Linked DNA regions of Homo sapiens: region 2 is linked to region 1. The links come from fine-mapping of genetic effects on gene expression. A gene starts in region 1. The other region holds a variant in brackets. All regions are shown on one strand. Distances are from middle to middle. Region 1 holds the start of CARF (calcium responsive transcription factor). Region 2 overlaps CYP20A1 (cytochrome P450 family 20 subfamily A member 1).

The links. PIP is the estimated chance that this variant, and not a neighbour inherited with it, causes the effect. A credible set is the group of variants that fine-mapping cannot tell apart.
Region 2: its variant is the best candidate, but not a certain one, in a credible set for the expression of CARF in pancreas (GTEx, PIP 0.63).

Annotation. Positions count from the first base shown.
Region 1 is chr2:202,909,552-202,914,932 of GRCh38, reverse strand. CARF (calcium responsive transcription factor) reads right to left here and starts at 2,658. Exons shown (of 17, transcript NM_024744.17): 1 at 1,831-2,658. It overlaps WDR12 (WD repeat domain 12), which reads left to right and starts at 3,260. Exons shown (of 13, transcript NM_018256.4): 1 at 3,260-3,497. The coding sequence starts at 3,457. RefSeq lists enhancers at 2,378-2,427, 2,528-2,727, 2,768-2,917, 2,928-3,077.
Region 2 is chr2:203,253,208-203,258,588 of GRCh38, reverse strand. All of the region lies in intron 4 of CYP20A1 (cytochrome P450 family 20 subfamily A member 1), which reads right to left. Among named protein-coding and RNA genes, the nearest start is that of CYP20A1, 17 kb to the right of the region's middle. The variant G/C (reference allele first, on the strand shown) is at 2,249.

The DNA of each region.
Region 1 (5,381 bases):
GGGAAAAAAAATCTAAGGCTGGTGTTCACAATGTCAATTTTATTTATGGTTTATTCTCACTATAAGCTTCCCTGCAATCCATTTCTACCCATGTTTTACTCTGCACAAACTTTTTACCTTTTTGCTCTGATTTTTTGTTTGTTTTTTTTTTTTGAGATGGAGTTTCACTCTTTTTGCCCAGGCTGGAGTGAAGTGGCGTGATCTTGGCTTACTGCAAACTCCACCTTCCAGGTTCAAGCAATTCTCCTGCCTCAGCCTCCCCAGTAGCTCGGATTATAGGCACCCCCCACCATGCCTGGCCAATTTTTGTATTTTTAGCAGAGACGGGGTTTCACCATGTTGGCCAGGCTGGTCTCAAACTCCTGACCTCAGGTGCTCCACCCGCCTCAGCCACCCAAAATGCTGGGATTAGGCTGCTCTTTGAGAGCTTTACAAATTTATTTAATCCTTACAATGACTCTGAGGTAGATCTTCTTGTCTCTGTTTGTAGATAAGAAAACTGGAACTGTCAAGAAACTTGCTTAAGATCACAGAGTGCATTAGGCTTGGATCCATAATCAAATTGGAAAAAAAGAAAAACACAAAGAACAATTAAGACTCCAAAGCCCTAATGCATAGTCTTTGTATCCTATCACACTGTGGCATTATATATATAAAACAAAAAACTTTATAATAAAGAGAAATGTATTTTCCAAACTGTGGTTCTCCAGATAACAATGTGTCTCCATGAGGACCATATAGTAAATACATCCCATAAAAAATGATTACCAACCAAAAGCTTGCAATTAATGTTCCAACTAAAGAAAAAGACTCAAAGTAAAAGCATCAGCTATCCTAGGTACTGTTTGGAGGCAACACCAAACACGACACATAAATCATTGTTGAAAAAAACCGTAAAACATAATGCTGGGTATTTAGTTATGTTGAATGCTAAAACTAATCTTTCCTTAACTAAAGGTCTCCGTCAAATGAAAAGTGTATTTTAGTCAAGTCAGGATTTCTGTTTTGCAAACTGAAAGTCTTATATTATTAAGCATATATTCAGGTTATTTTCCTGATCATAATTTTCAAATCAAATTAAGATCAAACTCTACTGTCAGGTACTGTATATTCTCATTTTGATAAATTTCAAATTAATGATAAAAATGTATTAACCTGCTGGTCAATTATACATTTTATAAATATATTTTAACCAATGACATATTACCAGTAAGTACAGATTCAACGGCAAGATTTCATTAAGAAAGTGTTTCAAGCTTCAGATGCCCAAGACTTATTTAATGTGTAAATCCTCACCACTACAATAACCACATGGTTAAACGATCACCACTTCCATTAGCAAGCTCAAGCCTAATAAGTGATCTCCTGGGACTTCAGCACAGAGGTTTTCTAATTTTATTCCTCCACTCAATGTGGCTATTCTCCCTTATCTATTCACGCTGGCAAAGCTTCTAGTTAAACTGGAATTAGTAACTATTTGATGATAATAATTAACATATACTGAGTGCTTCCGATGCCGCAGTTAATTCTTATAGTTGATAAAAGTGTGGCACAAAAAGGTTAATCAAGTAGCAGAGGCAGGATTTGAACCCAGGAATTCTGGTTCCAGGGCCCGGATTCGGAGCTACAAAGGTGAGTAAACTGAAAAGAGTCCTACTTTTATTGTCATTGCTCTCTAATAAAAATTATTTTTTCTTCCAATTGTTTAAATCTCTTCTCATTCTCTATTTAAATATTAGGCGTTCATTTAAACATTAGGCGTCTACCTTACAGTAGGACATCTTTAAACAACGTAAAAAAGGAAAGCTTTGTCTTCACCTGCACACATACCGGTCTGCCCATAAATTTTGCAATCCAGTTCTGCCTGATTCTAAACTGCTTGTCTCTTGAAGCGAATGCCTTAAAAAGTGACATTGGGATCAGGATAGTTATCTCCATCCATCCTCCCTCAGAAAAACAACTATATTAGAGTAATTCTTGGGACCATTGAGAACAATACACAGGCCTTTGGGTAACTTCAAGACAAAAAAGGCAAAAAGTCGGGGAGAAGGTGTGGGAGGATGATTTTCCCCTTCTAAACGTAAGGTATAAAAGGGCTCAGAAAGCGGAAAAAGAACCCTAAAAAGCAAGGTGCGGGACGGCGTGAGGGACCACACATTGGGCGCTCCGCCCAAGGGGTCCGGCTCCTTCTCCGCGGCGATGGCGCGTCCTTGGGCTCAGCAACCCTCCTGAAGACACCTAACCTCCTCCTTCTCCAGCCTGCCCCTCTGGGGCCTGCGAGCCCCGTCCCGGGCCGGGGGTCGGAAGCCGTGCCATGTGGGACCCCGAAAAGGCCCCCAAGCTTGGCGCGGAAGGCGCCGCCAGTGACCGGCTGCGGCTGGGGGCGGAGGCCGGCAGTTGCTCGGAGCTCCGGCGGGTCAGGAGGTGACGGGAGGAGGAGGAGGCAGGAGGAAGACGGGGGGTTGGGAGGTAGCGTCCGGTAGGTCTGCGCAGACAGCGCTGCCAGACCTCTGACTCCCCCAGTCCTGCCGCCGCCGATAGCCCCACAAGGCGACATGGGAAGTCCGCCGGAGCAGAGGGGAGAAAATTCAAAACGAGTCTACTCAACCTCGTCTTGGCTCCGAGGCCCCGCCATGGAGACCAGCATAATGCGCAGGCGCGCCCCACCGGGAGCGCGCAGAGCAGTCCCACGACAGTAGGACCACTATCGGCCACCGTCGACCGTTTCCTCTCTCATCCGTTCTTTTCTTTGTATTTCCGCCTCTCGCCTCTCTCTAAAAGCCGCAGTTAGAGGCGAGATTTAGGAAAAACCTCTGCCGAGTGAGCCTCTGGTTGGGAATATGTATGAGAAAAAAAAACTGGCAAGGCGTTAGTCAAGCAAAGCTGAAGGCAGAGGAAATTTGATATCTGGCTGGAGTCTAGAGGATTTAATGCAAATAAGATACTCTGAGGGCAGCGTGGCAAAAAAAGACTACAATTCCCGGTGGTCACAGCGTTTGAGAAGCGATGCTTTCTGAGACTTGTAGTAACTAGGAGCTGTGTTTGAACTATCCAGGCTCAGGACAGCCTCTTGAAAAAAAATTTTTTATTAATAAAGCGGATTTGAGTGGGATCTTTTTCCTAATCGATTACGGGCCCACACGTATGGGAAGAATTCTAACAATGATTAAAGGGACATGCTACCTTTACGACTATCCTTTTCTAATCGATGACTCCTAAATCTAGGAGTAGGTAGTCGATGTTTGTGGTCTGGGCGTCTGTAGAAGGGCAACCTCGTGCTTTCTGCAGAGGAGACCGGAGGGCAGAAGGCAGAGTCCAGGCTTAGACTGCAGTTCCTCGCTTACCTGTGCAGTCTAATTTTGAGCTGCCTCTTTGTAGTCTTAAAAGGCAGGAGCTTCGTGTTGTGGGTCTGCTAACCCGTACGTTTCCGTGGGCAAGTCGTGTGTACTCCTCGCCATGGCTCAGCTCCAAACACGCTTCTACACTGATAACAAGAAGTAAGTAAGCGTTCCAGCCTTCTCTCCCTTCCCCAGGTTCCTTTCCGACCACCCCTTTGGTATGACCTTGTGGATCCCTGGTTGTTTCTGCTGTCACCCCCACCCTTTTTTCTGAGATTACCTGCTTTCTAACCAGCTTCGTAGGTTCTATATAATTTGAATTGTGAGTGTGGAGGAGGCTGAAGGGCTTCAGGTTTGCTTTCTGAATGAAACATTTTATATGTGTAATTTAAAAATGAACAGTGGGCCTTGTTATAGGGTGTCTGCTAGTGGTGGTTCACAGTTTTTGAAAACGGAAAAAAAGTTTTTGAAAATGAAAAAACATATTTACCATTTATGTATATCTATATAGATATATAAACATTTTAACCAGTGGTCTCAAGGTCTGTTAGCACTCATTCGAAAACTAATTATATGCTGCCTTGTGGTATATATTGCATTGTTAGCTTTCTTTGTGTTTGCCTGGTCTCTTCCAACTATATTGGAAGTCTCTTGAGGGCAGGGACTATATATTAATTAAGCTTCTTGGATTGGCTGAGTCAACAAAAAATGTCAAATTTTTCAGTGAAAATGATAATATTTGTCGTGTTAATAAGCTAAAGTTAGCCATAAACTAGGAAACTCCCACCTGAGTTACATCTGTGGTTTTGTTTGTAGCTTTATGAGGAGAGCTAGTAAATCATCTTCTCTCCCCTTGTGTTGTTGCTGAAAGTATACATAAATCGTATTATCAATGCACCTGAGTATATGTACTTACTTACATACATTGCCTTAATACTTCTCTAGGAATGTGGTGATGCATTAACATAACCACTGTGTTTTTTAATTGAAAGTAGGTTTTTTTGTTTTTCTTAAAATAAAATTTTTTGAAATATGTGGGGCTTTTTTTTGTTTGTTTGGTTTGGTTTTTTTGGAGACAGAGTCTCACTCTGTTGCCCAGGCTGGACTGCAGTGGTGGGATCTTGGCTCACTGTAACCTCTGTCTCCCGGGTTCAAACAATCTTCCCGCCTCAGCCTCCAGAGTAGCTGGAATTACAGGCATGTGCCACCAAGCCTGGCTAATTTTTGTATTTTTAGTAGAGACAGGAATTTGTCTTGGTGGCCATGCTGGTCTCGAACTCCTGGCCTCAAGTGATCCGCCCACCTCGGTCTCCCAAAGTCCTGGAATTACAGGCATGACCCACTGCGTCCAGCCTTGAGATAATTGTTGATTCACATGAAGTTGTAAGAGATAATAGGCCACTGTGTTTTAACCCCTGAAATGAATGGATACATGTCATATGTGTGTGTGTGAATTTAGGCCCTCCAAAAGGTAAAAAAATGTAGAAATTAAAATTCTTTGCCGAGTGCTGTGGCTCATGTCTGTAATCCCAACAGTCTGGGAGGCTGAGGAACGCAAATCGCTTATCTCAGGAGTTTGAGACCAGCCTGAGCAACATGATGAAACCCCGTCTCTACCAAAAATACAAAAAATTTGCCAGGCATGGTGGTGCCCACCTGTGGTCCCAGCTACTTGGGAGGCTGAGGTGGGAGGATCTCTTGAGCCTGAGAGGCAGAGGTTGCAGTGAGCCAGGATCAATGCAACTGCACTCCAGCCTGGGGAACATAGTGAGACTCTATCTCAAATAAATAAATAAATAAATAAATAAATAATAAAATTCTTGCTTTTTCTTTTTGCTTAATATTATGGTCAGTAAAATGGAGGCGGGGGGCTAATATAATTGTCACACACACACACAAGAATATACATATATGTGAATTATATACATAAATATATAGCTATAGCCTTATTGCTCAAAGTGTGGTTTGAGGATCATCAGCATCATATTTGCAAAGTTGTGCAACCATCACCACAGTCAATTTTAGAACATTTTTCATCATCCT
Region 2 (5,381 bases), 340 kb before region 1:
ACAGGCAAAGGAAGGTCTTGTTCAGTTTGTTTTTAGAAGCAGAAGTGTGCAGAGTAGAACCAATGTATTAATTAATGCTTACAGTGGACTGAGAAAGTCAGTCTCAAGTCTTAAATGGAAAGTGTGAGTTTCAGCTAGAACTTCCATATGGGAAAAATGGCATTCAACATTTACTAACCGTTTTTTTTTTTTTTTTTTTTAAACATAGGGTCCTGCTATGTTGCCCAGGCAGGAGTGCAGGGGCTATTCACAGGCACAATTATCACTCACAATACCCTTGAACTCCTGGGCTGATGCGATCCTTCCTCCTGAGTAGTTGGGAATACAGGCATGTGCCACTATGCCCAGCTTCCAAATGTAATTTTTAAAAGTGGATACTGTAAAGGCCTGAGGCACAGTGGCTCACACCTGTAATCCTAGTGCTTCGGGAGCCCGAGGCAGGAGGATCACTTGAGACCAGGATTTTAAGAGTAGCATAGGAAATATAGTGTGACCGCATCTCTACATAAAAATACAAAAATTAGCTGGGCAGGGTGGCACGTGCCTGTGGTCCTAGTTACTCAGGAGGCTGAGGCAGGAGGATCCCTTCAGCCCAGGAATTCGATGCTCCAGTGAGCTATAATTGTGCCACTGCACTTGAGCCCAGGCAACAGTGCGAGACCTTGACTGAAAAAAATAAAAAAAGATACCTGATTTACCCTAATGTGATTATTACACATTGTATGTCTGTATCAAAATACCTCATGTACCCCATAAATATATACACCTACTAAGTAACCACATTTTTTTTTTTCTTTTTGAGATGGAGTCCATGCACTGTTGCCTGGGCTGGTGTGCAGTGGAGCGATCTCAGCTTGCTGCAACCTCTGCCTCCTGGGTTCAAGCAATTCTCCTGCCTCAGCCTCCTGAGTAGCTGGGATTACAGGCGCCTGCCACCACGCCCAGCTAATTTTTTGTATTTTTAGTAGAGACGGAGTTTCACTTTGTTGGCCAGGCTGGTCTTGAACTCCTGACCTTGTGATCCACCTGCGTCGGCCCCCCAAAGTGCTGGGATTATAGGCGTGAGCCACTGAGACCGGCAAAAAAAAAATTTTTTAATGGATATTTTTAAATTTAATAAGGCATACTCTTAAGAGAACTACCAGATATTTAAATACAAAAATGCTTACAATGTGTAGTCAGAACATTTTTAGGAAGAATAAACAAAGTTATAGAAGAGGGAAAGGAAAATAAACCCAAACTGACCAAATGGAATTTTTTTTTTTTTTTTTGAGACAGTGTCTCACAGTCGCCTAGGCTAGAGTGCAGTGGCGCAACCTTGGCTCACTGCAACCTCTGCCTCCCAGGCTCAAGCGATCCTCCCGCCTCATAGACTCTCGATTAGCTGGGACCACAGGCATACACCACCATGCTCAGCTAATTTTTCTCTTTTTTTTTTTGTAGAGACAGGGTCTCATCACGGGAGGCCAAAGTGAGTGGACTGCTTGAGCCCAGGAGTTTGAGACCAGCCTGGGCGACATGGTGAGACCCCAACTGTATGTGAAAATTTTAAAAAATAATAAAAAACAAAAAAAAATCTTAATTTTATGTAAATATATCCAGTTGTTATGGAAGTTTAGAGATGGTACATGGAGGGAAGCATATTTAACTAAACTGGAGGCTGGAGTAGAAGTTAGCCATGCAAGGCTGGGAAAAATGTTTCAGAGGAGAAAAAAGACAGACCTATGGAAGTAAGAGAGGAGTCAAATAATTTAGGAACATTAAGTTATCAGTATTCATTCACTGATGTAATAAATATTGACTGAGGGCCTGCTCTATAACAAGAGCCAAGTATACAGCAGTAATCAAAATAAAATAGTCCCTACCTTCACGGAGCACACACTTAAGTGAGGGAGACAGACACTCAAAGGATTACAAAAAATAGAATTACTGGTGGGTGCGGTGGCTCACGCCTGTAATCCCAGCACTTTGGGAGGCTGAGGCAGGCGGATCACCTGAGGCTAGGAGTTTGAGACCAAACTGACTAACATGGCGAAACCCTGCCTCTACTAAAAATACAAAAATTACCGGGCGTTGTGGCATGCACCTGTAATGCCAGCTACTAGGGAGGTTAAGGAAGGAGAATTGCTTGAACCCGGGAGGCAGAGGTTGCAGTATGCCAAGATTGCACCACTGCACTCCAGCCTGGCAGACAGAGCGAGACTCCATCTCAAAAAGAAAATAAAAATAAAAATAAATAAATAAAACA[G/C]AATTATAAACCGGGAAAAGTGTTGTAAAGGAAAGGCACGGGGTGTTATGATAGCATCTAAAAGGGGAAACTGGCCGGGTGCAGTGGCTCATGCTTGCAATCCCAGCACTTTGCGAGATGAAGGTGGGAGGAACACTTGAGGCCACGAGTTCAAGACCAGCCTAGGAAACATAATGAGACACACGTCTTTACAAAAAATTTTAAAAACAACTAGCCAGGCATGGTGGCACATGCCTGTAATCCCAGCTACTCAGGCGGCTGGGGTGGGAGGATCCCGTGGGCCCAGGAATTTGAGGCTACAGTGAGCTATGATCAGGTCATTGCACTACAGCCTAGGCAACACAGCAAGACTCTGTCTTAAAAAATTAAAACAAAATAAATAAAAGGGGACCTATCCAGCAATGTGGGATGATCAGAGATAGCGTCCCTGGGGAAGTGACATTTAAACTAGGAGCTGAAAAATGAACACACATTAGCTTGGTGTGTGGATGACTGGAGGTGCATTCCACGCAATGGGAATAGCATAGACAGGCCCTGAGATAGGAGGGAACAGGGTACATCTGAAGACTTAAAAGAAAACAAGTATGGCTAGACTATAAGCCAAATGAGAATGTGGGAAACCAGGCTGGAAAAGTAGCCAGGCTAAATCATAAAAAGTCCTGAAGACTACATTAAAAATTTGGAGTTTGTCCCAAGAACAAAGGGGTTTTCAAACTAGAGTCCACAGATACCAAAGGGTCTGTTCATGGAATCCAGTGCAGTCCATGAACTTGGATCAGGGGAAAAAACAATCTTTCTTTTTAACTAACCTCTGAATGAAACTTAGCATTTCCTTCAATTGTGAGTATAGGCTCTGACTTTTTAAACCAATACAAATCTCAAAATATGTTCCGATTATAAATACTGGAAAAATCTCATAATAATAATTTTGGCCCTTGCATCACTACTTTAAAATCATGGAAGTTTCTGGAAGGATTATTAGATCTTGCTATTTAATACGTTAACAAAGAGGCAAATATAATATCATAGTTTTTTTAAAAAGTATTAATATTTTGTAACTATATTGGTTTGCTTTAGCTATGCATTTAAAAATGTTATTCTCAGGAGTTGAAGGTTTCATCAGACTGCCAAGAGGTATCTGTCAACTGCAAAGCACGGGAAAATACATGGGAAGGAAAGGGGAAAGAGAAATAAGCAATCCAGGTAAGATCATGGAAATCTAAACCAGGGTGATGGCAATGCTGGTGGGAGAGAAGTAGATCAATTAGAAAGGCATTTAGAAGGTAAAATTGACATTAGAGATTCTTTTCAAATGTGATTTTCTTTTCTTTTTTCCTCTTTTTTTTTTTGGAGACGGAGTCTCACTCTGTTACCCAGGCTGGAGTGCAGTGGCGCAATCTTGGCTCACTGCAACCTCCGCCTCCCAGGTTCAAGTGATTCTCATGCCTCAACATCCTAAGTAGCTGGGACTACAGACACGTGCCACCACGCCCGGCTAATTTTTCTGTATTTTTAGTAGAGATGGACTTTCACCATGGTGGCCAGGCTGGTCTGGAACTCCTGCCCTCAAACGATCCACCCACCTCAGCCTCTCAAAGTGCTGAGATTACAGGTGTGAGCCACTACACCCAGATCAAATGTGATTTTCAAAGAATACTAAGTGCTATAAAAATGCTTACAATACAATGGTAAATAAAAAACACAAAGACTATCCACGCAGTATAATCTGATTACATTAAAATTCTATTGTGCACACAAAACACCGGAATGATAACAATTTTTTTTTTTTTTTTGAGACGAGTCTAGCTCTGTCGCCCAGACTGGAGTGCAGTGAGTGGCATGATCTTGGCTCACTGCAACCTTCACCTCCTTGGTTCACATGATGCTTCTGCCTCAGCCTCCCGAGTAGCTAGGACTACAGGCATGTGCTACCACACGCAGCTAATTTTTGTATTTTTAGTAAAGATAGGGTTTCATCATATTAGGCAGGCCAGTCTCGAACTCCTGACCTCAAGTTGAGGCAGAAATTTAAAAATAAATATGCATTCATTCACTCTAAGTAACAGGGAAGGCAAGGGTTAAAAATAAAAGAACAAGGCCGGGCACGGTGGCTCATGCCTGTAATCCCAGCACTTTGGGAGGCTGAGGTGGTGGATCACAAGGTCAGGAGTTCAAGACCAGCCTGGCCAAGATGGTGAAACCCCATCTCTACTAAAAATACAAAAAATGAGCTGGGCATGGTGGCAGGCGCCTGTAATCCCAGCTACTCGGGAGGCTGAGGCAGAGAATTGCTTGAACCCAGGAGGCGGAAGTTGCAGTGAGCCGAGATCACGCCACTGCATTCCAGCCTGGGCGACAGAGTGAGACTCTGTATCAAAAAAAAAGAAAAAAAGAAAGAAAAGAACAAGTTTTCCTCTGCCTAGCAAGCTCACTTCAAGGACAGTTATAAGATAACACTGTCCAGAAAGCCAAGGCCAAAGGAATAGGCTCCAAACACCACCACCCCCATCCAGAGCAAGGTTAAAGGAAAAAAAAAAAGAAAAAGAAAAAGACAAATTTTTTTACTGTTACTCCTTTCCTTGGCTTCTTAAGCATGATTATGTATTACAAATGTCTGTATTTAACCAGTTCTTGTTTTTCTTTCAATGCAGCTACAAGCTCACCAGCTATGCAAGGCCACAACTTATGTTATGCTATAGATTATGTGACCTGTCACTGTATGATTAACTGCTTTTGTTTTGCTTCTGTAAATCTGCTTATAAAAACCACGTTCTGTCTTTGTTCAATGTTTAGTTTTTTGGATGTGAATCCACTGAGCCGGTGCGTACCTTAAAATAAACAATCCTCCTGTTCTCCATATCAGTCTCTCTGGTCCTCAGTTCCCCACAACATTTTTGGTGACCATGAAAGGACCCGAGATGGCAGGCTTACTGTCTCCTTTGCCTCTGGAGGATGGAGCCCGGAGCCCTGGGCCAGGGGAGACCTGTCACCCCAGGCACTGCCGGGAGAACTTCAGCCCATAGGGGAGATCAGCTCTCCCCTGACCTGGCGCCCCTACCCAGCAGCACAACAGAACCTAAAGAGGGGCTATAGGACAATTTCAGAAACAGTGCGCTTCAGGAACCGCAGTAAG